4 linked regions of the Homo sapiens genome follow. The protein of the gene in region 1 purifies or fractionates together with the protein of each later gene. This does not show direct contact. Each region holds a gene or a part of one and is shown in the gene's direction. Other genes may lie near its edges.

Region 1 (7,806 bases):
GTAATCCCCAGTGTTGGAGGTGGTCTTGGAGGGAGGTCATTGGATCATGGAGGTGGATTTCTCCCTTTGGTTTTGTTATTGTGATAGAGTTGTCACAAGATCTGGTTGTTTATAAGTGTGTAGCACCTCCCTCCTCTCTCTCTTCCTCTTGCTCTGGCCATGTAAGATATTCCTGCTTCCTTTCGCTTTCCACCCTGATTGTAAGTCTCCCAAGACTTACCTAGAAGTCGAGCAGAAGCAGCCATGCCTCCTGTACAGCCTGTGAAACCGTGAGCCAATTCAACCTCTTTTCCTTATAAATTACTCGGTCTTGGGTATTTCATCCACCATGGGATTACACAACGAGAAGGCTTTCACAAGGTGCAGCCCCTTGATCTTGGATTGCCCAGCCTCCAGAGCTGTAAGAAATACATTCCTTTTCTTTGTAAATTACCCAGTCTGTGGTCTTCTGTTATAGCAACACAATGAGGGGTAAGACCAATGGCAAAAGGGACTTTCAGATATAATTAAGGCTATGGACTTTCAGATAGAAAAATTAGCCTGGGTTGTCTAGTTGGGCCCAGTCTAAATCCACATGCCCTTAAAATAGAGAACTTTCTCCAGCTAACAGCAGAGGAGATAAAGCAGAAGATAAAGTTAGAGAAATTTGAAGTGTGAGTGGGACTCTGCCCACCATTGTTGGCTTCAAAGATGAGAGAAGGGACCATGAGTCAAGGAATGCAGCCAACCTCTAGAAGCTGAGAATGACCTCAACCTTACAACCATATGAAACTGGATTCTGCCAGCAACTTGAATGAGCTCAGAAGTGGATTTACCCTGAGAACCTCCAGAAAGAAACAGCTCTACTTCTTTGTGGTTTTATCCTCATAAGACCCTAAGCAGAGGGCTCAGCTGAGCCACTTTGTACCTGGACTTCTGGTCTGTTTAACTGTGACATAATACATGGATGTTGTTTTAAGTCTCCAAATTAATTTAATTAAGGTAATTTGTTATGACAGTAATAGAAAATTAGCACAGTTTCTGATGAGAAATCAGCTGTTAGTTGGATTAATTGCTAACCAGTACGTAATATGTAACTTGACTTTAATTGCTTTTTATCTTTGGCTTTTAGCAGTTTGACTATGCTGTGCCTTAGTATGCTTGTTTTTGTTTATTCTGCTTAGTATTCATTTTGCATGTACAAATTTACGTCTTTCCTAAAATTCAGGAAAATTTCAATCATGATGTCTTCTAATATTTTTTCTGCACCATTTTATTTCTACAGCTAGTATTCTAATTAATATAATCTATAAGAATTGTAAGCTTTGTTCATTTTAAAATATATCTTTTCTCTGTGTTGGACAATTTCTGTTGGTTTATCTTTAAGTATACTTACTCTGTCATGTCCATTTGGCTAGTAAGTCCATTGAGTAAAGAATTAATTTCAGAAATTGTATTTTTCAGTTCTAGAATTTCCCCTTCGTTCTTTTTTACTGTTTTTATTTCTTTCATGGGAGTTCCTATTTCTTTGCTGAGATTGTTAGTTACAACATTTTGCTCATTTAGGGACTGGATTTGATTGATCTTATTGTATCTTAAAGAATGTGTTTAGATAGATGATAGATAGATAGGTAGATAGATAGATAGATAGATAGATAGATAGATAGATAGATAGATAGACAGACAATGTTTTCATACGTTAAATAATTTTGAATGTACCATGGACATACGAATCTTACACTGTGGGTATTCTAGATGCTATTATTTTTCTCTGTTGAGTTTTCTTTGTCTCAGTAGGCAGTGTTCTTGGCTAGGCTGGAACTGGAACTGTTTTCTTGTGTGGCAGCTCCAGCCTCAGTTCAGGCCTTTTGCTCCAGTTGCTTCCTTTGGGTCTATTCCTCACGTGCTGGGTTCAGGGATGCTGGCAGTCAGAGTCTGGGCATTCCCTCTCTGGGTCTTTGTTTTCCAGGATTTCACCATCATTTTCAGTGCTCGTGGTTTCCCAGCTTCACCTTTCTCATTCCCCAGGGAAGAAAGATCATGAATGTTGTTATGTGCACCCCAGCATTATGTATGCCACCCCTTTTGGGGGAGAGTTAGCCATCTATGCCTTTGTATTTCATCTGTTGATTTCACAAATTTGTGTATCAAAACCCCAAGTATAGGAGTTTTACCTGTGACAAACAATGCAGGGAGAAATAACGGTGTGTCCTGACACATGTGGACACTGTTCAATTGTTTTCTATTAGTAAAACGACTAGCACCATGTATGCAGTTTGAAGACGTCCATATCTGGTGCACAGGAATGCTTTTTCTCCACGTGTTTCAAACCACACTTGGCACTACCAATATAATGTTTTCTAAAGTGATCGCTGGAATGGAAGCTTTCTCTTTTTTTTAACTTTTTTGCTAAAAGAGGTTACACATACATTTTTAGTTTTTGTCTAATTATGACCTTTAAATATATTTCTATTTTTTTTCCTTAGCTCTTTATATAATTGTCTTAGTCTGTTTTCCATCACTATTACAGAATACAGCAATACCTGGGACTGGATAATTTTTTTTTTTTTTTTCTGAAGCAGAGTCTCTCTCTGTCTCCCAGGCTGGAGTGGTAATTTTTTAAAACCCACTCTCACTGTAACTAATCCAGTCCCAGGAGAGCAAGAACTGACTCATGCCTGCAGAATTAACCCAGTCAGACAGAGTGGTATAACCCTCTTGACCTGATCGCCTCTTGAAGGCCCCGCCTTCCCCTGGGGACCAAATTTTCCACACACAAATTCTGGGGACATGCTGAAACCATAACAATAATGAAGACCATTAATGCTTCGTCTCTTAGCTATGTCACAAATCATTTCCCCAGTTTCTCTAGCTTTCACTTGTGTGTGGTATTTTTTGAATATAGGACTTTTAACTTTTCCGTAGTCAAATCTATCACGACCGAGAAACACTATCACTTAGTAATGAGGCTCCTTGCTTGGCAGTCAGAGAGACCTGAGTTCCAATCCTGCCTCTACTTGTTACCAGCTGTGTGACTTTGGTACATTGCTTAACCTCTCAGCACCAGAGGTTTCTCGTCCATAAAATGGTCGCAGCAGTGCCAGACCTTCTGGAATTGTTAACACATTGTGCAAACAATGGTTGTAAGATACCGATGCCAGAGATGGGAAGTGACACACGCTGTCCATGGCAGCTGCTACCTTTTCTATGGTTAGGATTATTTCCTGTCTGTCTTTTTTCCAGGCTTACAGAGTGCTTCTCTACCTCAAGTGATATGTATATTTACCTACATTTTCTTTAAATGCATTTTTGTTTTCGTGATCTATCCCAGCCCTACTGATTTGAACTGTTCACTTTATAAAATCTTTATTTTATATGCTTTTTCAAATTGTTTATGAGCTCAATACTGTTTTAGTTTTTTTTTTTTTTTTGAAACGGAGTCTCATTCTTTTTGGCCCAGGCTGGAGCGCAGTGGCGTGATCTCAGCTCACTACAATCTCTGCCTCCCGGGTTCAAGCGATTCTCCTGCCTCAGGCTCCTGAGATTACAGGCGCCCACCACAATACTTGGCTAATTTTTGTGTTTTTAGTAGAGACGAGGTTTCACCATGTTGGCCAGGCCAGCCTCAAACTCCTGACCTCAGGTGATCCACCTGCCTCAGCCTTCCAAAGTGCTGGGGTTACAGGTGTGAGCAGCCGTGCCTGGCATACTTATTGTAATTTTTTTTTTTTTTTTTTTGAGACAGAGTCTTGCTCTGTCTGCCAGACTGGAGTGCAGTGGCACGATCTCGGCTCACTGCAATCTCCGCCTCCCGGGCTCAAGCAATTCTCCTGCCTCAGCCTCCCGAATAGCTGGGATTATAGGCCTGTGCCACCACGCCCGGCTAATTTTTGTATTTTTAGTAGAGACGGGGTTTCACCATGTTGGCTAGGCTGGTCTTGAACTCCTGACCTCAGGTAATCCGCCCACCTCGGCCTCCCAAAGTGCTGGGATTGCAGGCGTGAGCCACCGTGCCTGTAATCCCAGGCGCCACTTAATTGTAATTTTTAATGAACATTTTGATACTGGTAGGTCATACTTCTCTCCTATTCATCTTATTCAAATCCTTTTCCTACACTTTCTTTTTACTCTTTCAAAGAAACTTTAGGTTATTTGATATTTTTCTTGGTCTGGCATAAAGTATATGAGGAAAATGAAAATTTCAGGCTTCGAAGCTAGGAACACTGTTTGTCTCTCCGTTTATTTAAATTTCCTTTCATGGTTTTCATAAAGTTTTTTCCTCACTGCACACAACTGGTTAGGCCATTTCCTAGCACTTTTACATTGCTGCCATGTATCCGATCCACCTAAGTGTGCTTTCTTTCTCATTTTTACTGGTACTTACAGAAGTACATACATTTTTATCATCTGCAAATATTGAGTTTTACTTTTTTCTTTGAAAATGTCATTTCATTATCGGAAACATCTAGCACCATCTTAAGCGGTGCAATACACAACGGAAGACAGTCCTTGGTTTTTTCACATTTTACTAATTATGAGGCTAACAGGTGAGATAGTATCTTATTCCCATTTTGCAGATAAGGAAGATAAGGGCGGTGGGGCACACAGCTGGTGAACTCGCCCCAATCCCATTTCGCATTTGATCCCAGGCAGCCTGGCCCTGCTGGGTGAAAAGTCCCATCCCAGAGAGGAAACACAATGAACGGCCTCGCCGTGCGCCCACGAGGAGAGGCCTCTGGGACACCGTCCCCAGGGCGCGGCGGCTGGGCCCGGCTTCCCGCACCGGGGCGCTGTCGGCCCGTGGTGCGGGGTTCGAGCTGCGGGCGGGGAATCCAAGCGGGCTCGCGGCGGACACCAGGTGTCACCTGGCCGTGGCGTCCGGCGCGGCGTGGGCGTCCGGGGGCGCGGCGTGGAGGAGCGCGCGGGATGGGGCGTGGGCGCGGGGAGCGCCGGGCGGAGCCTTAACAAGTGGTCGGGCGGGCGGACGAGGCGGGCGATGGCCCCGCGGCCGGGACGCGCACAGGGACCATGCAGGGCAACGGCAGCGCGCTGCCCAACGCCTCCCAGCCCGTGCTCCGCGGGGACGGCGCGCGGCCCTCGTGGCTGGCGTCCGCCCTGGCCTGCGTCCTCATCTTCACCATCGTGGTGGACATCCTGGGCAACCTCCTGGTCATCCTGTCGGTGTATCGGAACAAGAAGCTCAGGAACGCAGGTAGGGCCCGCGCCGCCTCCCCTGGGCCAGCGCTCCGGACGCAGCGCCTCTCCGCGGGCAGCCAGCCTTCCCCAAGCACTTGGTTCTTTTTCCTAAACACTGCGGACTTGGAGTTATTTTTCCTGTTAGAGAGGACTCTTCTCCAGCCTGCCCGTTGAAAGTGCCTTTTCATAAGGCGCGGAGTCACAGCCCCTAAGAGGTGGGACACTCCACCAGAGTCGGGTTCTCTTTCCTATGGGGACACCCCCGTCTGGTTGTCCTGTCTGAGGTTTATTAGATTGAGAAGCCTCAGGTCCAGGCTGCAGAAAGTTCCTCAAGCAGCCTCTGCAACGAACTGATCAATTGCTTGGTCTTAACATGTGATTTAGTTTTCCCAACATTGTTAAAATATGGAAACATAGAAGCTGGCAAAATGATGGAGCAGCCGCCGTGGTCTTGTTGTTCGGGAGTAGTCTGCAGTTACGAGCCTACAGTGGAAAGAGAGGCTCCCAAACGTGCTGTGTCCGGCAGGCGGCGGCTCCTCCAAGTAAACAAGTTGACACTTTAAAAACGGAAGTTGTTGTGTTAGAGTAGGCAGGTAGCCAGGCGTGAGCAGGAAAGAGTACACTTACGTATAATATGCAACTACAGGTAATTGTGTGCTTGAGTTAACTTGCTTTTTCCTCCGAGCAATGCATTGAACTGGTTTGTTCTGGTGGGAACCTGTGGACACTTTGTTCTTAGGATGCTGGATGTTCAGACCTCTGAGTGATGATTAGATGCTTGGTTCTCTGAAGAAACTAGTTTTTTATTTGGAGGCACTTTTGGGAGAAGGGGCGGGGAACGAAACGTGCACTTAACATGTCTGCCAAGATCAATATTTTCGTTTTAACCAGGTGGTTAAGAAAAGCTCTAATTTTGCTTAGCTCCTTTTGGGGAGGCTCACCCCTGCCCTGCCTCCCCCACCCGCCCCCAGTAGTGCTTTTACGGTTTGTAGTTTGAGAATTAGTTAGTTAAGCACTTAGTAATATGAATTGAGTTTGAGTCAGTAAATTGAATAAGCTCACTTCGTAGGTGATTGATATAAACTGGAGGAATTCTGCCTTCGAGAAGAGGCTCTTTCCTTCCTAGCAATAAAAACGACTTTCTCTGGACCAAACAGGTTGTGAGCACTGGGTTAATTGAATCCTAGTGCAGCCTTGTGCTGTGGCGCCGTGGTCAACTCGCCTTACAGAGGAGAAACTGGGGCTGCAGATTGTTCCCAGGGACTGTAGGTGTGAGCCCGGTTGAATTCCCAGAGCTGGCCTCCAGAGCTCGCCCTGCTTCCTTGCTGTCAACACCTGCAGCATTTGGGAAGTTTGAATCCTGCAGAACCTTTAAAAAGTGTTCACGGCTGGGCGCGATGGCTCAAGCCTGTAATCCCAGCACTTTGGGAGGCCGAGGTGGGTGGATCGCCTGAGGTCAGGAGTTCGAGACCAGCTGGCCAACATGGTGAAACCCCGTCTCTACTAAAAATACAAAAAATTAGCTGGATGTGGTGGCCCACAGCTGTAATCCCAACTACTTGGAAGCCTGAGGCAGGAGAATCGCTTGAACCCGGGAGGCGGAAGTTGCAGTGAACAGAGATTGTGCCATTGCACTCTAGCCTGGGCAACAAGAGTGAAACTCCATCTCAAAAAAATAAAATAAAATAAAAAGTAAAAAATGATCACGCCTGAACAATTTTACTTCTTGTGTTTTCTGAAGAAGAACTTAAGAACTCCTTACACTCACTTTGTATTTTATTTGCTAAGACGTGCTCTTAAGAGGATATTCCTGTAGCTGCATGGGAGACCCTTAGTGACCTTTAATCCGCACAGCTTTAGAAGTTCCATATTTTTCTAATAGGGATTTTTTGTTTATATGTGCGGTTCAAGCCATTTGAGGATTTCTGGAATGGATGGTAATTTGAAACAGTGATAAGGATAGCTGATTCAAATATAAGTTTTGGTATGCTTATTAAAAGTTTTGATGATCTTCAGACCTCTCATTTCAGCTAAATTAATTTTGTTGGCTTTAAGGATGAAATGTTGGGAAGAAGAGAATGGAAGAAATGACAATGTGAAGGCATCTAGGCTTTGAACCATCACTTTCCTTTGGAAAGCTTGGTATAATTGTGGTGATTTATGCCACCTTCCTCTCCTCAAGGGACTGTGTTGACATTTGACTTCCCAGGGAATAAATTAAAAATGGCTAACAATCTGCATGGCGGGGACAGTGGACAGCCACAGCCGACGCAGGCTGCAGACAACCACTGGTATCTGTGGTGCCAACAGAATATTCGCTCTACTCTTGTCCACAATTTGATAATAGAAGTGAAGCTACCATATCATATCTTCTGAGTAAATTTGATAGCATAAGGGACGATTCCCGCAATGGAACGCTAGGATTAGATCCTTGCTGTGCTCCTTCTGATTTCAGAAATCAGTGAAGCTAAATACCAAACTTCATTTTCCACATTTGTTGAATTGCAGGTAATACCCAACCGCTTAGCCTCATAAGAGTGTTGCAATGACTGTAGTGAAGTGGCGCATATGAGAATACTTTGAAAAGGATAAAACACGTAATACTGTGTTGGCTTGTTTGTTTTCTGGGTA
Region 2 (7,019 bases), on another chromosome or scaffold:
GATCGAAGAATAGTTGATGATTGGGCCAATGATGGATGGGGCCTGAAGAAAGCTGCTGATGGGGCTGCTGAGGTTCGTGTTTGCTGCTTGTGCATTTGTGTCTGTTATTGTAAGGAGCTGTTATTTTGTGAAAGTCTGTGTTAAGGTTTTTTTTCTTCATTTGGCAATATTGGCATAAAAAGTATAACCATATGCCTGCAAAAGACACAATATTGGGTTTTGGGGCATGATTTCATTAGTCTAATGTAGTGGCTTTAGAGTCTGTTTGTGTTCAGGGTTTTTTTTTTATTATTTGTCTGGGTATATATTTCGAAATTTGTCATTTAGGCTATATTTTAATACACTCTTATATGTTGAATCTCGGTTTACACTACATACAGAATTTTCAAACAACTGGTCATGTGGCCGATTTAAGAATTGGAGAGCCAGGGATACTGAGATAAGAAATTCACTGGATCCTGAGGTTAAGGGAGCCTTTTGCAGGTGATGTAGAAGCCAGCTTTTGCACCTATGAGAGTGAAATCATCTTGATTATAAGGAGAGCAAGAGGATGGAGGCTTTCTCTAATTTCTTTTTTACATTTTATGAGCATTTTCTCTGAAAAAGAAGGTCCTGCGTAGTGCCATGCCATAACTGAACTGCAGAAAAACAGCACGGCCTATGTTTGGTGTCAAAAGCTGGAACTTTCAATCAGCCCTGTCTTGTTTTTCAGCCAGGCGTTGTGGGGCAGATGATCGAGGCAGCTGAAGAGCGCCCGTGGCTGTGGGTAGTCTATATTCTAACTGTAGCCCTTCCTGTGTTCCTGGTTATCCTCTTCTGCTGTTCTGGAAAGGTAGGAAGTTTTTTTTTTTAGAATCAATTTTAGAGACATCACTCTAGTGATTATTAAAAATAACTAAGATATGTTGCCTGAGGTTTTCTTTGTAGTGGCTCAGTAATGACCAAGCCATGTTTGGTGTTGACTTCAGAAACCTTACTTACTGTTCCTCAGTGGCCGTTTATTGTGCCCAGATGGGAGCAGGATTTATAGCCCCTTGGTTGCTATTATTATTTATCCTAATCTGTTACTCTCCATAGTGTTCGGCAGCAACTTTCTAAAAAAAAACAATAAACTTAGATACCAAACTAGCCACTTGGGCAATAATCAGCTTTGCCTGCTGGCATAGCTATTTCTATTCTTTGTAATTCAGTCTTTGATTCCTCATTATCCATTCTGCCTTCACCTTCCCCACTCTCAAAACAGTATGTTGGGGTACCACAGCCTTATTGTTAGTTTTTCTTGTTTAGCCTTTTTTTTTTTGCATGCTATCATAAAAAAAGAAAGTCTTATTTTGGACTCTACTTCTGCTAAATGAGGATTATGCTTCATCTGGCATTCATAGCACTTTGTAACTGGATCCCAAGTTCCTTTTCCAGCCTCAGCCTCTGCCACTATTCTGTGTATCGGTGCCTCAGTCACCTTGACTTTTTTGACCTTTATTTTCCTGCCTGGCCCTTTTGTTTTTATTGTTCTACCTTGAAACACACAAGCACATGTGCATACACACACGTACATACACGCTCTTCAGGGTAGGAATTACATCCTATTCGTTTCTGTATATCTATCCCTGTATACAGCCTGGAACAGAACTTTGCCTGTAGGCATTCAGGAATTATATAACATAATACATGAACATGTAAACAAAATTGTACTTTGGGGAACATTTCAGAAACAGACCAGTGGTATGGAGTATAAGAAAACTGATGCACCTCAACCGGATGTGAAGGAAGAGGAAGAAGAGAAGGAAGAGGAAAAGGACAAGGGAGATGAGGAGGAGGAAGGAGAAGAGAAACTTGGTAAGAAACAGAGTCCAGAAAATCTGCTTTAAGCCAAGACCCTACGATGTTGTTAAACCTTTACAGTCAAGTTAAGGATTGTTTTTAGCCAGGCGTGGTGGCTCAAGCCTGTAATCCTAGCACTTTGGGAGGTTGAAGCAGGAAAATCACTTGAGCCCAGGAGTTTAAGGCTGTAGTCAGCCAGGATAGTGCCACTGCACTCCAGCTGAGCAACAGAGTGAGACCCTGTCTCTCTCTCTCTCTCTTTTTTATTTTTTAAGACAAGGTCCCACTCTGTCACTCAGGTTGGAGTACAGTGGCACAGTCACAGTTCACTGCAGCCTTGACCTTATAGGTTCAAGTGATCCTCCTACCTCAGCACCCCTCCAAGTAGCTGGGACCACAGGCATGCGCTACCATGCTCAGCTGTTTGTTTGTTTGTTTGTTTATTGATTTATTTATTTGATATGGTCTGGCCCTGTTGCCCAGGCTGGAGTGCAGTGGTGTGATCTCGGTTCACTGCAGCCTTTGCCTCCCAGATTCAAGCGATTCTCCCACCTGGGCCTCCCAAAGTGTTGGGATTACAGGCGTGAGCCACCAGACCCAGCGAGATCCTGTCTCTTAAAAAAAAATTGTTGGCCAGGTGCGGTGGCTCACGCCTGTAATTCCAGCACTTTGGGGGGCCGAAGCAGGCAGATCACGAGGTCAGGAGGTCGAGACCATCCTGGCTAACATGGTGAAACCCCATCTCTACTAAAAATACAAAAATTAGCCGGGCATGGTGGCAGGTGCCTGTAGTCCCAGCTACTCAGGAGGCTGAGGCAGGAGAATGGCGTGAACCTGGGAAGGCAGAGCTTACAGTGAGCCGAGATTGGGCCACTGCACTCCAGCCTGGGTGACAGAGCAAGACTCTGTCTCAAAAAAAAAAAAAAAAAAAAAATTGTTGGCCAGGCATGGTGGCTCACGCCTGTAATCCCAGCACTTTGGGAGGCCGAGGTGGGTGGATCACGAGGTCAAGAGATCAAGACCATCCTGGCCAACACAGTGAAGCCCCGTCTCTACTTAAAATAAAAAAGTTAGCCAGGCATGGTGGCGGGCGCCTGTAGTCCCACCTATTCGGGAGGCTGAAGCAGGAGAATCACTTGAACCCGGAAGGCAGAGGTTGCAGTGAGCCGAGATTGCGCCACTGCACTCCAGCCTGGCGACAGAGCGAGACTGAGTCTCAAAAAAAAAAAAAAATTGTTGGCCGAGCAAGGTGGCTCACGCCTATAATCCCAGCACTTTGGGAGGCCAAGGTGGGTGGATCACCTGAGGTCAGGAGTTCGAGATCAGCCTCGCCAACATGGTGAAACCCCGTTTCACTAAAAATACAAAAATTAGCCAGGCGTGGTGGTGGGCACCTGTAATCCCGGCTACTCCGGAGGCTGAGGTAGGAGATCCACTTGAACCTGGAGGCAGAGGTTGCAGTGAGCCGAGATCATGCCATTGCACTCCAACCTGGGTGACAAGCAAAGTCGATCTCAAAAAAAATAGTGGCCGGGCGCGATGGCTCACGCCTGTAATCCCAGCACTTTGGGAGGCCACCGAGGAGATCATGAGGTCAGGAGATCGAGACCATCCTGGCTAACACGGTGAAACCCCGTCTCTACTAAAAATAAAAAAAGTTAGCCGGGCATGGTGGCAGGCGCCTGTAGTCCCAGCTATTCAGAACACTGAGGCAGGAGAATGGCGTGAACCCGGGAGGCGGAGTTTGCAGTGAGCCGAGATCGCGCCACTGCACTCCAGCCTGGGCGACAGAGCAAGACTCTGTCTCCAAAAAAAAAAAAAAAAATTGTAGATCTAGAGATGTGTTCTAATGCTAATATATAATCACCAAAAATAATAAGGTTTTGCTCAGTTGTTTAACTTCTGTCTTAGAAGAGAAACAGAAAAGTGATGCTGAAGAAGATGGTGGCACTGTCAGTCAAGAGGAGGAAGACAGAAAACCTAAAGCAGAGGTAAAGGAAAGGGGTCACACATTTTGTTTTACCAAGCTGAAGGTACATTTATGTAAAGGGAATATTTTAATAGGGTAGTTTACAGTGGCTTATGGCAGTAAAAATTCTGTTAAAGCCAATTTTGTTGAAGTGGGATTCTTTGTGATACAGGTCAGTGTTTTGTTTGATAATTTTAAGCTACATATTAATCTCAGAAGTATCTTTTTAGCTGAAAATCATTTTCTGAAATAAGCAGAAGGTTATAGGGGGAAAATAAAATGCTTGCTAAGAAGGAAACTTCGGGTCATTAACAGTCTATTTGCCTCTCCTCACTGTGCCCTGAAAAGTATTTCTTATACAAATCACTGTGTTCTAAACTTTTTGTCCCCGTTGTCCATAGATGGGTTCATTCATTCATTTAACTGACATTTGTTGAGTGCCCATTTTGTGCCAGGCATTGTCAGTGAGTAAGACAGACAAAGATACTCTGCCTTTAGGGAGCTTAAATTCTACTTGGGGGAAACAGGCAATGAGCAGTAAACATTTTAAGGAAGTAAACAACACAGCGTATTAGGAAGTAAGAAACGATGAATAATTAAAACAGGAAAAGATACTAAAAGTGCTAGAGGTAGGCGGGTCACCATGTTAAAACCTTACTCGAAAGATGACATCGAACCAAACACTTGAAAGAGGTAGAGAACTTTTCCATGGGGATGTAAGTGGGAAGAGCATTCCAGGCACAGAGAACAGCCAGTATTGAGGCCTAAAGTGGTTGTCTACAAGGCCAGTATGGTGAGTGGACAGAGAGAGTGGAGAAAAGAAGGGTGGAGAAGGCTCCAGGTTAGACAGGCTGTTGTGTGGACTTGGCTTTCCCTCCTAGTGAAGCGGGCAGCCATCACAGGCTACTGGACACAGGTGTCACAGGATGATGACTGTGTCTGCTGTGTTTCCTATATACCAGGGAGAATCAGGGCGACCAGTTAGGAGGTCCCTGTAATCATCTAGGAAAGATACGGTGGCCCCACAAAGGGTGACAGGAGAGGAACAGAGGGTATGAGAACTAGTTGGAGATCTGGATCTTGGTTTTGTGGTAGATTGGATATATAGAGTATGAGAGAAAGGGAACAGTCACTGTCTGTATGTACCATTGCTTACTAAAGTCCTTTACCCAGCACCTCTGTGTCTAAATCTGGTCTCTCCCGGAAAGCTCTCCTCAGGTTTTACTTTCAGCTACAACTCTGCCTTCCTATTAATAAAGATCATTGCTATCTGTATCTTTTGTATATTTTCCATGGATATGTTCTGTCTTAACTAGAATGCAATTCTTAAAAGTAGAGACCATGTTTCCCCCAAACTCCCTCACACGTTAAAAAGTTGCTGGTGCATTTAAAAAAAGGGAATATTTTCATAGGGTAATTTACAATCTTAGCAACTTGTGATAGAGTACAGAGCAGCAGCCTTGGAGTCAGTCTACTTGGATAGCCTTCCATCTTCATGAATCCTTGGTTTCTTATCCTCAGAATGGGGCTAGTGTGCCATAGGCCAGTAGATTGTTTGGGATTAAGCAAGATTAAGAAATCACAGTGTCTGATCCTTTTTTAAGAAAATGTTTATGGGTTAGATTGAGAAAAGTGTATGTTTATAGAAAACAATAAAGACTAAACTGAATTAGAGTAGGCATAATTCCACCACCTCTGAGACAACCATTCTTCTTGGTGCATTTTCTTCTCATCATTTTCCTCATTTTTTTCCTCAAATAAGTTACCCTCAGTCTGGCTGATCTTGAAAATATGGTGAACTTTTATTATTTTTTAAATGTGCTAATTATAATGAATTTCTTTTCAATCAATAGGAGGATGAAATTTTGAACAGATCACCAAGAAACAGAAAGCCACGAAGAGAGTGAAACAATCTTAAGAGCTTGATCTGTGATTTCTTCTCCCTCCTCCCCTGCAAGAGTGGTCCTAGGAGAGGACCTGGCACACCTTAGGTTGACATTCAGAAAACTTCAAGACATCACCATCAGCAGGCTCCAGTTGAACACTAGTCTGTGTAACTTTAAACATCTAGCAGTAAATACTTGCAGTTGTGATATAAAGGACCCTGTTTCTGTAGAAAAGAAAACATTTAACATAATGGTTGTGAAATGTAACATGAAGCAAACTAACTTTTTTTTTTTTAACATCTTTGTTTTTAAAATAGAATGATAGAACTTTGCCAGTCTTTAAGATCTTGGCTTAATTTAATGTATTAATCTGTTTGTGCAAACATAATACCACCATTTAAAAATGTTAGGGAGATGAGTTGCAGTTTTTATAATAGATTTTTTTTAAAGTTTGGTATTGTAAAACATTCACACCTCTGTCCCTCAAAATTGATAATTACGTTTAAAGTGCAGTCATTTGTGGTTAGAATCTTGTTTTGTTTGCTTCCATTATTGAGTTCCTCCTAAGGAAATTGAGGAGAGGGACTGAATAGAAGCCCAAATTCATATAAAAGTTGCGTTTAAGTTGTATTAAAAATAGATATATAAGAAAAAATTCTTTCACTTGATGTTTGTTAGACCAGAAAGTGTGTGTGTTCTGTAGCTCAGTTCCCAGACAGCTTTTTAGGTAGTGGAGGAGGTGGCTTCATGTGGCACTTGGGCATTTATATTCCACTTGGGAGGGTCAGGCTGTGGCCTTCTGGAGCAGGTGGCTTGTTAAGGAATGCTAGCAGGGCATGGCACGTGAGCTCCGGAATAGATGTCTTCATCACTTCTTCCACTGTGTGTTGACACTGTTTTCCTTACCTATTTCCTCAGATCCCCAGCTTTCTCCTCTGCTATGCATTTTCTTCACAGTGCAGCTTGCAGTCCGTTGCTGAAAATGATTATAAGCCCTGCATAATGTTAAGCTTTATTGTGATTACGTGTATGTTTCTTCTTTCTTTTAAGCAGACCCATACCTTTCCAGGGTCAAAGTACAGAATAGAATACATTGATACAAAGTACAGAAAAATACTTTGATTTTTATCCATTTCTTTTACTCTGTGTAAAGACTTGAGAAGTCTAATTCACAGGCAAACCAATACAGAATTGACTGCAGTTGAACAGACTAGAAGTATTTGTGGGAGGAGTGACATGAAGCATGAGTTATCTGATTTTTTTTGTAGCTGCTATATATTTTAAGCCTTCATTTGCAATTCATGTAACAGTTGTGTCATAAATTACACAATAAAGCAGTCCTG
Region 3 (7,751 bases), on another chromosome or scaffold:
GATTAATGAGTCACCATGGTATGCAATCCAGGTTAATGAGTCTACTGATGTTGACAAGACAACAATGCTTGTTTTTGTGCCATATCTTTTTCAGGAGGATGTGCAGGGGAATATGTTATGTGCACTTTTGTTGCCAACCAACACCACAGGTGCAGAACTATTCAAGACTTTGATTACATATCAGAAAAACGGAATTGGTCATTTTGTGTCAGTATATGCACAGACAGAGTGGCTGATATGACTGGATGGCTTTCTGGTTTCACTACTCAGGTCAAAGAGGTCACTTCTGAATGTGAGTCTATGCACTGTGTCATCTACAGAGAAATGCCGGGTAGCCGAAAATTGTCACCCGAACTTAAGGTTTTACAGGATGTGATTAAAATTATCAATGACATTAAAGTGCATGCCCTTAACTCAATGTCTGTTTGCGCAACTCTGTGAGATGTGTATAAGAAATGAGATGGCTTTCTAAAGGTAGATAACTGGCCAGAATTTTTGAGTTATGAGAGCCACTCCAGAGATTTCTTTTACAAAAACAGTCACCACTAGCAGCACATTTCAGTGACATAGAATGGGTGGCAAAACTTGTTTACTTGTGTGACACATTCAACCTGCTCAGTGAATTCAATCTGTCACTTCAGGGGAGAATGACAACTGTGTTCAAATCAGCAGATAAAGGGGCTGCATTGAAAACCAAACTGGAGTTATGGGGGCGATGAGTGAACATTGGGATTTCTGACATGTTTCAAACATTAGCAGAGATTTTGAAAGTGACTGAGCCAACGCCTTCTTTCTCCCAGCTGCTGCATGATCACCTAGCTCAGCTTTCAAAAGAGTTTGAGCTTTACTTGCCAACCACAAAAAAATCCCTGAGCTGGGAAGGAATGGATCCACCACCCATTTGTGAATAAGCCAGAAGAATTGACTTTGTCGATACTAGAAGAGGATCAACTGCTTGAGATTGCAAGTGACGGCAGCCTTGTATGTTTGAGACAACTTCAAATCTCCATACATTCTGGATGGAATATCCTGAGATTGCCACAAAAGCACTGAAAAGCCTGCTTCCATTTCCAGCATCCTATATTTGTGAAGCAGGGTTTTCTGCAGTGACAGCAACCAAAACTAGATTATGGAGTAAACTGGACATAAGCAACACACTTCGGGTGTCACTGTCTCCCATCACCCCCAGATGGGAACCGGCTAGTTGCGGGAAAACAAGCTCAAGCCTTCCACTGATTCTACGTTACGGTGAGTTGTATAATTATTATATTTCATTGAATATTATGATGCAATAATAATAGAAATAAAGTGCACATTAAATGTAATGCACTTGAATCATCCTGAAACTACATCCTGGTCTGTGGAAAAATTGTTTTTCACAAAATAGGTCTCTTGTGCCAGAAAAGTTGGGCACTGCTGGTAAACTATTATTTAAAAACAATGTAGGCAAAAACTATCTACCAAAATTGTAAATTCCTAAAGTAACAGTTTTCATAAGTTATGGTCTTTATTCCTTCAGGAGTTCATCTTTTACTGTTTTAAGATTTGGATGACTCTGAAACAGTGGTGCCATCTCAGCTAACAACAGCAGCATCTGCCTTCTGGGTTCAAGCAATTCTCCTGCTTCAGCCTCCCAAGTAGCTGGGACTACAGGCATGCGCCACCACACACGGGGTTTCAATTTGTTAGCCATGCTGGTCTTGAGCTCCTGACCTCAAGTGATCCGCCTGCCTCAGCCCCCCCACAGTGCAGGGATTACAGGCACGAGCCACTGTGCCCAGCCCATTTTCCCCTTTCTTTATTATCAATAGGCAAATCCTGACATTTGAATTTTTTTTGTAATAACAAGGTTAATAGCTTTCTACTGTCCTCTTTCATTTTTTTAATGTCATTTATCACTATCTAACATGCCATATACCACTCTTATTTGTTTATTGTCTGCTTCTTCCCACTAGAATGTAAGCATCATGAGGGCAGAGGTTTTTGTCTGTTGTTTACAGCCATATTGCCAGCACCAGGCATAGGATTCATATAATTGGATAAACTGAGCACTTACTGTGTACCAGGCATGTATACATGTTTACATGTAGAATCTTATTTAATTTTCACTACAACAGAAAGATGTTTTATTATTCCCATTTTAAGATAATAAAACTGATTACATTTTTTTAAAAGGTTAAGTAACTTAGCCAAAGTCACATAACTGAATGGTTACAGGGTAAGTGATAGATCAGACTAGTTTACCCTCAAACCTTAGCCCATCTATTTACCTTTGTTACAGTATCCAAACTACTTAACCTAAGATTCAGCACATTCCATAGTATCATTTCATAGTACCAAAGACCCTCAACCTATCTTACCTCTCACTATTTTCTATCTAAAACTGCCTGCTTCTCTCAAACTAACTGGCCCACTCCCTGTCTCTTGAAGCTTATGTTCCCTCTGGATTTTGCTCAAATAAACTCCCTACAGAAATCTTTTTTTTTTTCCTTTCCAACTTTTATTTTAGGTTCAAGGGATACGCGTGGAGGTTTGTTATGTGGGTAAATTGTTAGTCTTGGGGGTTTGGTGTATAGATAATTTTGTCACCCAAGTCATCAGCATAATACCTGATAGGTAGCTTTTTAGTCCTCACCCTCCTCCCACCCTCCATCCTTAAAAAAGACCTGATGTCTAATGTTCCCTTCTTTTGTGTCCATGTGTACTCAATGTGTAGCTCCCACTTATAAGTGAGAACTTGTGGTATTTGGTTTTCTGTTCCAGCCTTAATTTGCTTAGGATACTAACTAGTCTTTGGCTCTGAGGTTCAGTGCAACTTCCAATTCTTTCCTAAATCTTTCCTGAATACTTGAGGATACAGTGAGGAATTCCTCTTAACTTCTTCAGCGTTTACCATATGGTTTTGGAGGCTTTTGGTCACGTAATGCCTCATATTAACTATGTCCCACCCCATTTATCTTGCTTGGCACACAAAGGCTCAATAAATGGAAGCCATTGTAATTTTCTTCCATTCCCATCTGAGTGAGGGCACTAAAAGCAGTAACTTAGGGGTATATGATCTCTCTCTCTGTAAAACATTCGTCTAACCCAACATCTTTAAAAAGCTAACATTCTACTTTTGGGAGGCCGAGGCGGGCAGATCACTAGGTCACGAGTTTGAGACCATCCTGACCAACATGGTGAAATCCCGTCTCCACTAAAAATACAAACATTAGCCAGGTGTGGTGGTGCCCGCCTGTAGTCCCAGCTACTTGGGAGGCTGAGGCAGGAGAATCGCTTGAACCCGGGAGGTGGAGGTTGCAGTGAACCAAGATCGTGCCATTGCATTCCAGCTTAGGCAAGACTCCGTCTCAAAAAAAAAAAAAAAAAAGCAAAGTTAACATTCTAGGCCAGGCGCGGTGGCTCACGCCTGTAACCCAGCACTTTGGGAGGCCGAGGCAGATGGATCACCTAAGGTCAGGAGTTTGAGACCAGTCTGACCAACATGGTGAAACCCCATCTCTGCTAAAATACAAAAATTAGCCGGGTGTGGTGGTGGGCGCCTGTAATCTCAGCTACTCAGGAGGCTGAGGCAGGAGAACAGCTTGAACCCAGGAGGCGGAGGTTGCTGAGCCGAGATTGCGCCAGTGCACTACAGCCTGGGCAACAAGAGTGAAACTCCATCTCAACAACAACAAAAAAGCTAACATTCTAGTTCAAAGAAAGCAACACATAGATGATGTAAATTACACATAAAAAACCATTCACTGAGGTTAAATGAAAATGTCTGCTGGAGTGTGCCAAGGGGACCTGAAAGGGCCTCCTCTGAGAGGGCATCGTGGGAGGGCTTCAAGGAGGGCGGGAGGGTGGCAGGGAGGCAGGGATGTCGCGCCTCGTCTGGTTCCTAATGTCTGAAGTTCTTTTGGTTCCCTGTTGTCTTTCACACCGCCGCCTCGGGCTCGCTTTTGCGCAGGGCCACGTGGCAAAGTTTTAGTTTAACCGCACGTCGGGCCCACTGTAAACGGTTAATAACCGCCTTCGTGGACCAGGCCTCTGCCCTCCATCTTTGTGCGGGCGGGAGGTGGGGCGGGGACGCCAGGTGTAGCGGACAAGCGGAGAGGCGGCGGGTAGATCCGGGCCCCCAACCCCAACAGTCAAGTTTTCAAAAAGCCCGCGCGTGGCGCCCCAGACCGCATCCGTTGGGAATGGCCCCCAGCGCGCCCCCTGCTCTCTCCCCGGCAAAGCCCTGGGCGGGAGAAGGCGCGGGGGTGGTAGGCCGGCTCTGCACGCCGGGGGCGCCGGGGCAAGCGCGCACCGGGGAGCGCGCCCGTCCAACAGCTGCCGAAAACGGAAGTGGGTGCGAGGGGATCACGGTGATTGGCTGAACTCAGATGTCTCTCAAGGGGCTGGCGCGAACGCCACTGCGGAGTTGGGCGAGGGGATGAGTAAAGGGGAGGGGGAGAAACACTGGGAACAGCCGCGGTGCTAGGAGGAAATGAATCGCGGTGGTGCGCGGAGGGCAGGGAGGGACCCATGTCAAGGGACAGTGGGGCGCTCGGGAATGAAAGTGGGCTGGCAGAAGCGGAAGCGGGAGCGGCACAGGCCGCGGGCTTGAATAGACCGCGGAGGGCGGGGAGTCCGTGATCTAGAGCGGCGCTGCGGCGCGGTAGGCGGGATTAAGGGGAGCGAGGCGGGGATTGGCTGGTAGCCCTAGGCTGCCGTACGTCGGCGGTGACGCACGCCTCGGGGAGGGTGCGCGCGCGTTCAGCGGCCTCTTTGTGTGGTGCCCAGATAGGGGAGCGGAGGTGGCGGCGGCGGCGGTAGCGGTGGCCTTGGTTGTCTTCCAGTCTCCTCGGCTCGCCCTTTAGCCGGCACCGCTCCCCTTCCCTCCCCCTTCCTCTCTTCCTTCCTTCCCTCCCCTTCCCTTTTTCCCTTCCCCGTCGGTGAGCGGCGGGGGTGGCTCCAGCAACGGCTGGGCCCAAGCTGTGTAGAGGCCTTAACCAACGATAACGGCGGCGACGGCGAAACCTCGGAGCTCGCAGGGCGGGGGCAAGGCCCGGGCCTTGGAGATGGAGAATTCTCAGTTGTGTAAGCTGTTCATCGGCGGCCTCAATGTGCAGACGAGTGAGTCGGGCCTGCGCGGCCACTTTGAGGCCTTTGGGACTCTGACGGACTGCGTGGTGGTGGTGAATCCCCAGACCAAGCGCTCCCGTTGCTTTGGCTTCGTGACCTACTCCAATGTGGAGGAGGCGGACGCCGCCATGGCCGCCTCGCCCCATGCCGTGGACGGCAACACTGTGGAGCTGAAGCGGGCGGTGTCCCGGGAGGATTCGGCGCGGCCCGGTGCCCACGCCAAGGTTAAGAAGCTCTTTGTCGGAGGCCTTAAAGGAGACGTGGCTGAGGGCGACCTGATCGAGCACTTCTCGCAGTTTGGCACCGTGGAAAAGGCCGAGATTATTGCCGACAAGCAGTCCGGCAAGAAGCGTGGATTCGGCTTCGTGTATTTCCAGAATCACGACGCGGCAGACAAGGCCGCGGTGGTCAAGTTCCATCCGATTCAGGGCCATCGCGTGGAGGTGAAGAAAGCAGTCCCCAAGGAGGATATCTACTCCGGTGGGGGTGGAGGCGGCTCCCGATCCTCCCGGGGCGGCCGAGGCGGCCGGGGGCGCGGCGGTGGTCGAGACCAGAACGGCCTTTCCAAGGGCGGCGGCGGCGGTTACAACAGCTACGGTGGTTACGGCGGCGGCGGAGGCGGCGGCTACAATGCCTACGGAGGCGGCGGCGGCGGTTCGTCCTACGGTGGGAGCGACTACGGTAACGGCTTCGGCGGCTTCGGCAGCTACAGCCAGCATCAGTCCTCCTATGGGCCCATGAAGAGCGGCGGCGGCGGCGGCGGTGGAGGCAGTAGCTGGGGCGGTCGCAGTAATAGTGGACCTTACAGAGGCGGCTATGGCGGTGGGGGTGGCTATGGAGGCAGCTCCTTCTAAAAGAAAATTTAAAATGCCTGGGAGTGGCTATAGGGGTAGCTCTTTCCAACAGCCCAAGTGGGGTCAACTCCTAAGCCCCACCCCCTCACACACACCGCCTTCCCTGTTTTGCCCTTGGGGGAGCCACTTCTAAGGCTGCTTACCCTTGGGGGTGTTCCTCTATTTGCCTGCCACCTCTCTTGTCTCTCCCTCTGAAGATGGACTCGGCCCCACATACACATTTTTGTGTTACAGTCATTGATGGACTCTATTTTTTTATTATTACTTGGACCTTGGTCGTTTTTATACTAGCAAAATGTCTTGTTTTAATTTGTGTTTTTTGGGGGGAGGGAGGGAGTGAACTTGCTGATTCTGTAGCAAAACCTGGGTGGGGGTTGGGGTGGGGGGTAGTTTACTTTGTTGTAAGGACTTGATAACCTGGCTACAGCGTTTTCTATGAAATCTACTTGGATCCCATGCCTGAAATTTGGAAGCATATGTACAAAAATCATTTTTACGTTTTATTTTTAATAAATCATTGTGTTTGACCGTACATGTCTAACATTTTTTTTCTAGGATCCATTCCGTACCGTTTTTTAAGGGATATTTGTTTAAGACTTTACGTGTTAATTCTTTATTCTTGATGTGTACTTAGAGAAACTTAAGAGGTCCTGTGGTTTTTTTCCCCTCTCCTGTTGCCCTGCTAGTTGCGTGTTGAATTATATCCCTTACAGGCAAAACTTTTGAAGTGGTGGATGTGGCTTTTTAAACTCTTAAGTTTCTGTGCATCCATCTCTTGTACTAAGCGAATTGTTTATCATCTTGACATGGTTGGTCATTTCTATGACAATTTACTTCAAACTGTGTACTGTGTAGTTCTATATAGTTTGTGTTAAGCATGTCATTCATATAAACTGTTTAAAATTTTTCAGATGGCCTAGTTTCATCCCTCTTACTGGTTTGTCTGTAATGAATGGTTAAAAATAAGGGTTATATTTTACCCTCAAATGCGTTTTTGTACTTTCAGAGCAGGTTTAAACGTTTTTTTTTTTTTTTTCCTATATCCGAACTGTTGGCCTCATGGAAATCCCTTTCCCGATCTTTGTAGCACCATCTACTGGCAGAATGGCAGAGTAGCTGCGAAACAATTTGTTTAAAAACTTGCTTAAGACAATTGCATCAGATTTGGAAGTTTTGCCATCAAAATTCTTTGCAGAATTGGAAGTTAACACATTTGCTTGTAACTGAGATGGGCTTCACAGGAATGTAGTTGCCAGTTCATATCACAATAGCCCTTTCTATATGAGGTTTGAAAATGTAAACTGCTATGCATAGCTTGGGCAATAGCCCTAAATTGCTATGACAACTAATGAACCAGCTACGTATACTGGTATTTTAGGTGCAAGTTGTAAAGCAAAATATCTGTGTATTCTGCTTGGTTAACAAATGTATATTTGTAGCCCTTTCCTGCAATAGCATTCAAGTTGTTGTTTATAAGAGAAGAACAAAAGTGATAATAGGTGAAAATTGCCTTTCTGGATAGAAATAGAGAATAGCAACGTTTATGGATATCACAAATAAAGAATTCAATTCTTTACATGATTGAGTGAGAGTATGTATAACCTGGTGGGTGGGTTCAGAGTACCTTTTAATCTAGTATGCTTAACTTGATGTTAATATTTAACTTAAATATTTGACTTACATGTTGACGTTGAAGGCTCAAAGCTATACTAAGAAGCTTTCTGAAAGATTGGGCTTTAAAATAAAATAATATTTTAATATTGAACCATTTTTTAACTTCTTGTC
Region 4 (7,519 bases), on another chromosome or scaffold:
CAATGGGACTCAGAGAAGCCCAGCTCACAGCCAGGGAATGAAAGGTGGGGAGGAGGGATTAATTTAACAGGGTAGGGGGATGGGAGGGAAGATCGAGGGATGGAGAGAGCAAGGCAAGCCAGATGGTTGGAGTGCCAGTGTGTTGCAAGTGGAGGGACATGAGGTGGACCCTTGAGTGGGGACAATCATAAAGCCTTACAGAAATCGCTACTATTGGGCCAGGCACAGTGGTTCATGCCTGTAATCCCAGCACTTTGGGAGGCCAAGACGGGAGGATTGCCTGAGCCCAGGAGTTTGAGACCAGCCTGGACAACATGGTGAGACTTCATCTCTATTAAAAAAAAAAAAAGGGCCGTGCACGGTGGCTCACACCTGCAATCCAGCACTTTGGGAGGCCGAGGCAGGCAGATCATCTGAGGTCAGGAGTTTGAGACCAGCCTGGCCAACATGGCAAAACCCCATCTCTACTAAAAATACAAAAATTAGCCGGGTGTGGTGGCAGGCGCCTGTAATCCCAGCTACTTGGGGAGCTGAGGCACAAGAATCACTTGAACCCAGGAGGCGGAGGTTGCAGTGAGCCAAGATCATGCCACTGCGCTCCAGCTTGGGTGATAGAGTCAGACTCAGTCTCAAAAAAAAAGAAATCACTACTATAACACCTCACCCTTATTGAGGGCTTTCTATGTGCCATGCACATTCTGCATGTTTTACATGTTTCCTCCTGGAGTCCTGACCTCTGCCTGTGCTTTGGGTATGTATAACCGTTAGGCCCATTTTACTGATAAGAAAACCGAGGTACAGGGAGTTTCTGGTACTTGTCCAAAGTAACAAGTAGCTGGCAAGTTTGCAAACTGCTCCTCAGAGTCTTTGCTTCCAACTGCCAGCCTACAGCCTCCAACTGCTGCAGAGTCCAAACCAGTGTGTGTGGGGGCTTCATCTATTCTCAGGGCATTGGGGAACCACAGAAAGTTTCCGAGCAAGGGGGTGATGTGATTTCTTTCAGTAGGATGCCCTTGGCTGCCATGTGGAGGATAAATTGTAGGGAAACAGGAGAGCCAAGGAAGACGTTAGAATCCTAGGCTGGGAGATAGTGGGGACAGAGAACAAATACAGATTGGAGGGGAAATTGAGGTAGGGAAGAGGCTGATGGCATATAGGGGTAGGGGAGGGGGTCATTGCTGTGGCTGGTGGGGGGATCATGAAGTGGTGGAGAGCCTGGGAACAGGGGCCAGTGGGATGGGATGTACCCAGTTCTGGACAGTGTGGATTTGAGGTGCCTGGGTGTCTCGGGGAGGCTTCAGAGCAGTGGTGGACATGGGGCTGGCAATCAAAGAAGTCAGGCTGGAGAGGACCTTGTGGGGTTCTGAGCCCCCAGAGTGGGAGGTGTATGAGTGGAGTGGCAAGCAGAGGCCTGGCCATAGCCCTGGGGACCCCATGGAGATGGAGAAGGAGCAGCTAGCAGGGTGGAAGCAAGGGTTGCTGGACTCCCTGGGAAGAGCATAGGACTGGAAAGGAGCAGCTGACTGGCGGGAAGGGTGCCATAACCACAGGACCTGGCCTGGGGCTGGGGAAGGCCATGCCTTCCAGTAGCCCCATCTTGCCCTGCCTCCATAGATTGGGGTCTGTGTTGCGCCCACCTACTGAGAGCTGGGCCTCCAAGGGGCTGACAGGTTCTCCCTGTTGCCTGGCAACTGTGAGAGCTGTTGGCTGTTGCTAGGAGCAGGCTAGAGAGGCCAGAGGAGCGAGGATCAGCTCTCAAGCCTGGGGCAGGGTGACAGGTAGAGGGAAGGGGAGGGTCCCACCTTGGAAGCCAGTTTGTAGTCTGTGCGTGGACAGATTGTATTCTTGGCCATGTGTACCCATTTTTGTAGAGTGTGTTCTGTGGATCTGAGGCATGTTGGAGACTGACCTATGTGTGGGTGTCTACAGCATATCTGTGGCCCTGGTGGACATTATGTGTCCTCAACATGTTGCATGCCCATGGCAGGGCCTGCTTGAGCTTCAGAGCAGTGGTGGACATGGGACATCATATCCTATGTCTCAGGACAGGAGGGGGGCCTGAGGGAGTCATTGGAGGACTTCCAGGCCAATGACCCCTCAACAAGAGAGACATTCAGATAGGGATATGCAGACACTCCAGGGAGAACAGCCAGCCTGGGGATTGGGAGCTGGAACAAAATGTGTAACAAGGTTCTTTTTTTTTTTTTTTTTTTTTGAGACGGAGTCCTGCTCTGTTGCCCAGGGTAGAGTGCAGTGGTGTGATCTCAGCTCACTGCAATCTCCAGTTCCCAGGTTCAAGTGATTCTCCTGTTTCAGCCTCCTGAGTAACCAGGATTACAGGCACGTGCCACCACGCCCAGCTGATTTTTTTTTTTTTTTTTTTTTTGAGACGGAGTCTTGCTCTGTCACCCAGGGTGGAGTGCAGAGACAGAATCTCAGCTCACTGCAAGCTCCGCCTCCTGGGTTCACACCATTCTCCTGCCTCAGCCTCCTGAGTAGCTGGTACTACAGGCGCCCGCCACCACGCCGGCTAATTTTTTGTATTTTTAGTACAAAATACACCGTGTTAGCCAGGATGGTCTCCATCTCCTGACCTCGTGATCTGCCGCCTCGGCCTCCCAGTACTGGGATTACAGGCGTGAGCCACCGTGCCCGGTCTTTTTTTTTTTTTTTGAAATGGAGTTTCACTCTTGCCCAGGCTAGAGTGCAATGGCATGATCTCAGCTCACTGCAACCTCCGCCTCCTGGGTTCAAGTGATTCTCCTGCCTCAGTCTCCCAAGTAGCTGGGATTACATGTGCCCACCACCACACCCCGCTAATTTTTTGTATTTTAGTAGAGACAGGGTTTCTCCATGTTGGTCAGGCTGGTCTCGAACTCCTGACCTCAAGAGATCTGCCTGCTTCAGCCTCCCAGAGTTGCTGGGATTATAGGCATGAGCAACCATGCCCAGCCAAAATGTGTACCAAGGTTCTAAGGAAGGGGTTTATGCTAAACACCGGGCTGTTGGTGGCAAGCACCCTGTCTTGCTTCAGGGGCCTTCCCTTTGGGCTGGGGCCTCCTAGCCTCATGGCACTGGGGTCACACAAAATGCCTTCGTGGTTAATTTTTGGCAGACCCTTCAAATGTCCAATCGAGGGTGGGGCTCTGGGCTGCTCCTGGAGCACAGGATCAGAAAGACTTGAAATGTTCAGCTAGAAACACTGCTGCTTCCACCCCACCTTTGCCTGGCCATAGGGTTGCAGCCATTGCCCAGTGGGGACAGGCCACAGGAGGGTGGGATGTGGGATCATGGCCACCTCCAGACGTGGACAGGCCATGGAAGAGACAGGTCATAAGATCATGGCCACTTTTGTTTCTAGAAGTCCAGTGGCAACTTCTTCCTCTTTCTTCCCTCCCAACCCCCTCACCCTGCCTGCCCGCCCTCCTCTCTTCCTCCCTCTCCACCCTCTCATCCTCTCTCCCTTTCTCCCTTGGGTCCTGATTGCCTGGTCCCAGATTGGAGTCCAGGATGGCTGCCTGCCGAAGAATGCCTCCCGGTAGATTGGGGAAGGATGGATATGAGAAGCCACCCAGCTAAAGGAGACAGCCTAGGCAAAGGTGTAAAGATGGAAACCAATTTTTTTTTTTTTTTTTGAGACGGAGTCTTGCTCTGTCGCCCAAGCTGGAGTGCAATGAATGGCGCGATCTCGGCTCACTGCAACCTCCGCCACCCGGGTTGAAGCAGTTCTCCCGCCTCAGCCTCCTGAGCAGGTGGGATTACAGGCGCCCACGACCACGCCCGGGTAATTTTTGTATTTTTAGTAGAGATGGGGTTTCACCATGTTGGCCAGGCTGGTCTAGAACTCCTGACCTCAAGTGATCTGCCCGCCTCGGCCTCCTAAAGTGCTGGGATTACTGGCGTGAGCCACTGCGCCCGGCCTTTTTTTTTCCTTTTTCGACTAGCTGCAACCCAGAGGGAGAAGGCGGTAAACCCGCCTTAAGACTGAGAAAACCGCAGTCCAGAAAGGCTCCCGAGTTCGTAGATCCCAAAACAAGTTTACTGGACTCATTAACTTTAACAAATGACAAAGACACGCCTCCTCCACCTAACTCGCCCAACTCGCAGAAGCTCAGAGGGCTGGTTCCTGCTCTGCCCTCGAGGGCACCGGATCCCCACCCTCGGGTTAACAGATCCGCCCTCCCGGCTGTCCAGCAACAGAGCTCCCGGCGCTCCGCACCCAATCACAGCCCGGTCCCGCCTGCAGCCCGCCCAGTGCCGGGTCCCGGGGTTTGGAACCACCCCTATTGCCTTTTCTCCGCGTGGCCCCGCCTGCAGCCCAGGCCCGAGCCTGGGCTGCGCCTAACTTCCCCCTTCGCTCCGCCCTCGAGCCAATCAACAGCCTCTAATCTCCTCTGGCCCCGCCTGCAAGCCCGCCCCGGCCCAGTCACAGGCTTGGTTCGCCCAGGCCCCACCCCCGGCCCGCCCCGCCGTCGGTGCGCGGCGGTAGGGAAGGCGCCTCCCGCAGTCGCTCGGAACTGCCGACCCGAGTGCTTCCCGCAGAGGGCTGGTGGTGGGAGCGGAGTGGGTCGGGCGGGGCCGAGCCGGGCCGTGGGCCGTGTGGGGGCCGGGCGGCGGCCGGGCCGGCGGACGGCGGGATGGGCTGCACCGTGAGCGCCGAGGACAAGGCGGCGGCCGAGCGCTCTAAGATGATCGACAAGAACCTGCGGGAGGACGGAGAGAAGGCGGCGCGGGAGGTGAAGTTGCTGCTGTTGGGTGAGGCCGCGTCCCGCACTGGGATCCTTGATTCCCAGCTCGAATCCCCAGACAAGGACTTTGACCTCCCAGACTAGGGCTTCAAACTCCCAGACCCGGGCTGTCTGGGACCCCACACCTGGGCCAGGACCAGGGTTGAAAACTCTAGATTGGACTAGACCTTTGATCCTGCCCAGACTCTAGACCAGACCCCTGTCTCATCCCAGACCCCAGACCTCCAAATCCAGTCAACAGTGCCCCAACACCCGCGGTCCAGTGCCCTGCTTGGCCATCCCCCCTTGCTAACTAGCTTCACAGAACTTCAGAGCCCCGCCATCCTTCCCTACACTTTGCCCAAACCCCCAGGATGCCCGCCACTTGTTCCCCAACCCTCAGGCTCCGCTTGTTTTCCTCACCTGCGCCTTTTATTCCTATTGGGCATGAGCATCCCGCGGGGCCCCTGCCAGGCCCCCCACCCACTCCCTCCTTCTCCTTCTGTGCCCCATCCCTAGTCTGGAATCTGTATCCTCCACCTGTGCACTCTGACCCAAGGAACCTCTCGAGTGGGAAACTGCTCTTGAGCCCCATCTCCAGCTGGAACCCCTTCAGCGAGCCCTGCTCCCTGCTTCCTGCCCTCCAGATCCTTCTCTGCAGGCATCACTCCCGAAACCCTCTGCTGATCCTCCCCTAAGTCCTCTTACACTCTGGCCTTCCCCAGATCCCTCCACCCTTCCTGCACCAAGTGGGCTGGGCTAGGAGGCGGGAGCCCTGGGTTGGAGAGGGCCTAGGCTGCCTTATGCAGAACCCCCACGGGGCTGGATTGAGGCTCCACTGGTCACGCTGGGGGAGGGGGCCAGGCCTCAGGCTTCCCAAGGAGGCTCTATGTTTTCCAGTTTCGAAGGCCAGTCTGGGAAGTAGGAGAGAGAGTGGAGGAGTTAGGGTTGTGGCCGCCTCCAAGGCCAGAAAAGATGGTGGCTGCTAGAGGAGTGGGGGGAAGTGGAAGTGGTGAGACAGCCGACATATTGCTGCCCCTGCGGGTGAGCCCAGGAGATCTGCTAGTAGGTGCTGGGCTGCCCACACCCCTTCTGGGCTGCAAGGCCTGGGATGTAGCCTCTGAGAGTTGGGGGGCTTGTTGGATCTTGGGACCCTGTGAAGGGGGATGGTGGACTAGCTGAATGAGGAGTTGAGGGGCCAGCTGGGGGTGGGCCAGGGTGCCTCTGAGCATCCCAGCTGGCCTTTTGCAAAGACGGTGGGCCTACTGGCTGTCCCCATCCAGCTTCCCACTGGAAGTAGGTGTGGTGCCCAGTGGCAGTCTAATTTTGATTTGGGGGTTTTAGAGTTGGGGGGAGGGAGGCCCTTGCAACAGCGCAGCACCGTTGTAGGCTGAGAAGTGCATGGGGGGGTGTGGCCCCTCGACTTCAGAACTGTCATAGGGCTCCCAGGCTGTGAAAAGCAGGGCTTTTCGTGCTGGACCTGTGGCCGAGGAACAGCATGTATGTCCATTATGGGCCATCTGTTGACTGTCCCTGCGGACCCGGCCTCCGGGGCACAGCCTTGGAGGTTTCAAAATGGCATCCGCTTCGCTGCTGCCTCAGGGAGGAAGAGAAGGGGCGGGAAGGGGCGGCGGCCCAGCCTCCTGGGCTGCTTTGCGTTGGGCGCTTGCCTCTTCCTGTCTCTGCTGTGAGTGCGGCAGCGGCAGTGAGTGGGTGTCGACGCGGCGGAATGCCCGTCGCTGCTGCTGCTGCTGCCCGACGGGCCTGGGGAGGGCACTTCCGGTACCGCTGCCTCCCAGTGCCCAGCCAGGAGTCTCTAGACAGCCTCTCCCCAGGCGATTGCAGTTACTGTGGTGGCCGAGGAAATGCAAGACTGGACCATAGAGCTGGGGGAACGCAGGGCTTCTGGCTAGTTTTGTGTCCCGACACCAGAAGGGTCCCCCATCCCACCAGGCCTGCTCCTTGGAGCCCAGCTCACCTTTTGGGCTAAGGCAAGTGAGACCTGGTAACTCCTCCCACACTGGGCTGGCAGCAGCCAGGGGTGCAGGGTCTGGCTTAGCACTTTCTAGCCTGGGAAGTTCACCCTGGGGTCCTGGCCTTCTGGCCTTTGCTTACTCTGTGAAATGGGCTTCCTGGGTTTTGGCCAAAGGAGTGCCCCAGGTCAGGATGGGGAGGGAGAACAAGAGCCTCCTGGTGGTTCTTGTTGGGGATGTAGGTTGGGAGTAAAGACCCTGCAGTGTGCTGCAAAGGGCTCTGACCAAGCTCTGCTTGATATTGATGACCCAGTCTGCCATGGCTGCCTGGGGAGGGATCCTGGCTTGAGCCATGCCTTTCCCATCCAGGTGCAAGGTGGTGATGGGAGCCCAGCTGTGGTAAGTTCAGAGTTCTGGGCGCCTGTCCCATGTAGCGGGAGACTTTGTCCAGGCAACGGGACTCAGGTTGGGCAACTGCCAGCCTTCCCTCCCAGCCAGAACCACGCCTGCTGCCCCGCCCGCACACCGCCTCCCTCCCATCTTGGGTAGCCCTGCCAGCAGGCAGGCACAGTCCTTGTCACCAGGGCAGAGGCTGATGTGGTACACACAGGCAAGAGAGTATTTCCTGGCAACTTTGTAGGGGGAGCAGATACCAGTCCTATTCTAGGGATGCTCCCCACTCCTACCCAGCTCAACGTGACTGATCAGCTAGGCCCAGGTGGAATCTGGGACCCTGGTCTGGGCTCTTAAGGGAAAGGAAGCCAGAGTGTATGTGAGGGGGGAGAGTCTCTGATTTGGGATGGGCCTGTGTGGACAGCT

Evidence for each region.
Region 2: the proteins of MTNR1A (region 1) and CANX purify together in Homo sapiens (tandem affinity purification; 2 studies listed by BioGRID and IntAct, with this or other methods). This does not show direct contact.
Region 3: the proteins of MTNR1A (region 1) and HNRNPA0 purify together in Homo sapiens (tandem affinity purification; 2 studies listed by BioGRID and IntAct, with this or other methods). This does not show direct contact.
Region 4: the proteins of MTNR1A (region 1) and GNAI2 purify together in Homo sapiens (tandem affinity purification; 3 studies listed by BioGRID and IntAct, with this or other methods). This does not show direct contact.

What each region holds. Positions count from the first base shown.
Region 1 is NC_000004.12:186,552,567-186,560,372, reverse strand, and holds the start of MTNR1A (melatonin receptor type 1A), read left to right. Parts: upstream 1-4,805; 5' UTR 4,806-5,007; coding exon 5,008-5,191; intron 5,192-7,806.
Region 2 is NC_000005.10:179,722,948-179,729,966, forward strand, and holds part of CANX (calnexin isoform d precursor), read left to right. Parts: coding exon 1-72; intron 73-712; coding exon 713-832; intron 833-1,709; coding exon 1,710-1,836; intron 1,837-3,732; coding exon 3,733-3,812; intron 3,813-5,643; coding exon 5,644-5,697; 3' UTR 5,698-7,019. UniProt on the Homo sapiens protein: Calcium-binding protein that interacts with newly synthesized monoglucosylated glycoproteins in the endoplasmic reticulum. It may act in assisting protein assembly and/or in the retention within the ER of unassembled protein subunits.
Region 3 is NC_000005.10:137,751,364-137,759,114, reverse strand, and holds the start of HNRNPA0 (heterogeneous nuclear ribonucleoprotein A0), read left to right. Parts: upstream 1-4,751; 5' UTR 4,752-5,048; coding exon 5,049-5,966; 3' UTR 5,967-7,751. UniProt on the Homo sapiens protein: mRNA-binding component of ribonucleosomes. Specifically binds AU-rich element (ARE)-containing mRNAs. Involved in post-transcriptional regulation of cytokines mRNAs.
Region 4 is NC_000003.12:50,231,699-50,239,217, forward strand, and holds the start of GNAI2 (guanine nucleotide-binding protein G(i) subunit alpha-2), read left to right. Parts: upstream 1-4,505; 5' UTR 4,506-4,637; coding exon 4,638-4,755; intron 4,756-7,519. UniProt on the Homo sapiens protein: Guanine nucleotide-binding proteins (G proteins) are involved as modulators or transducers in various transmembrane signaling systems.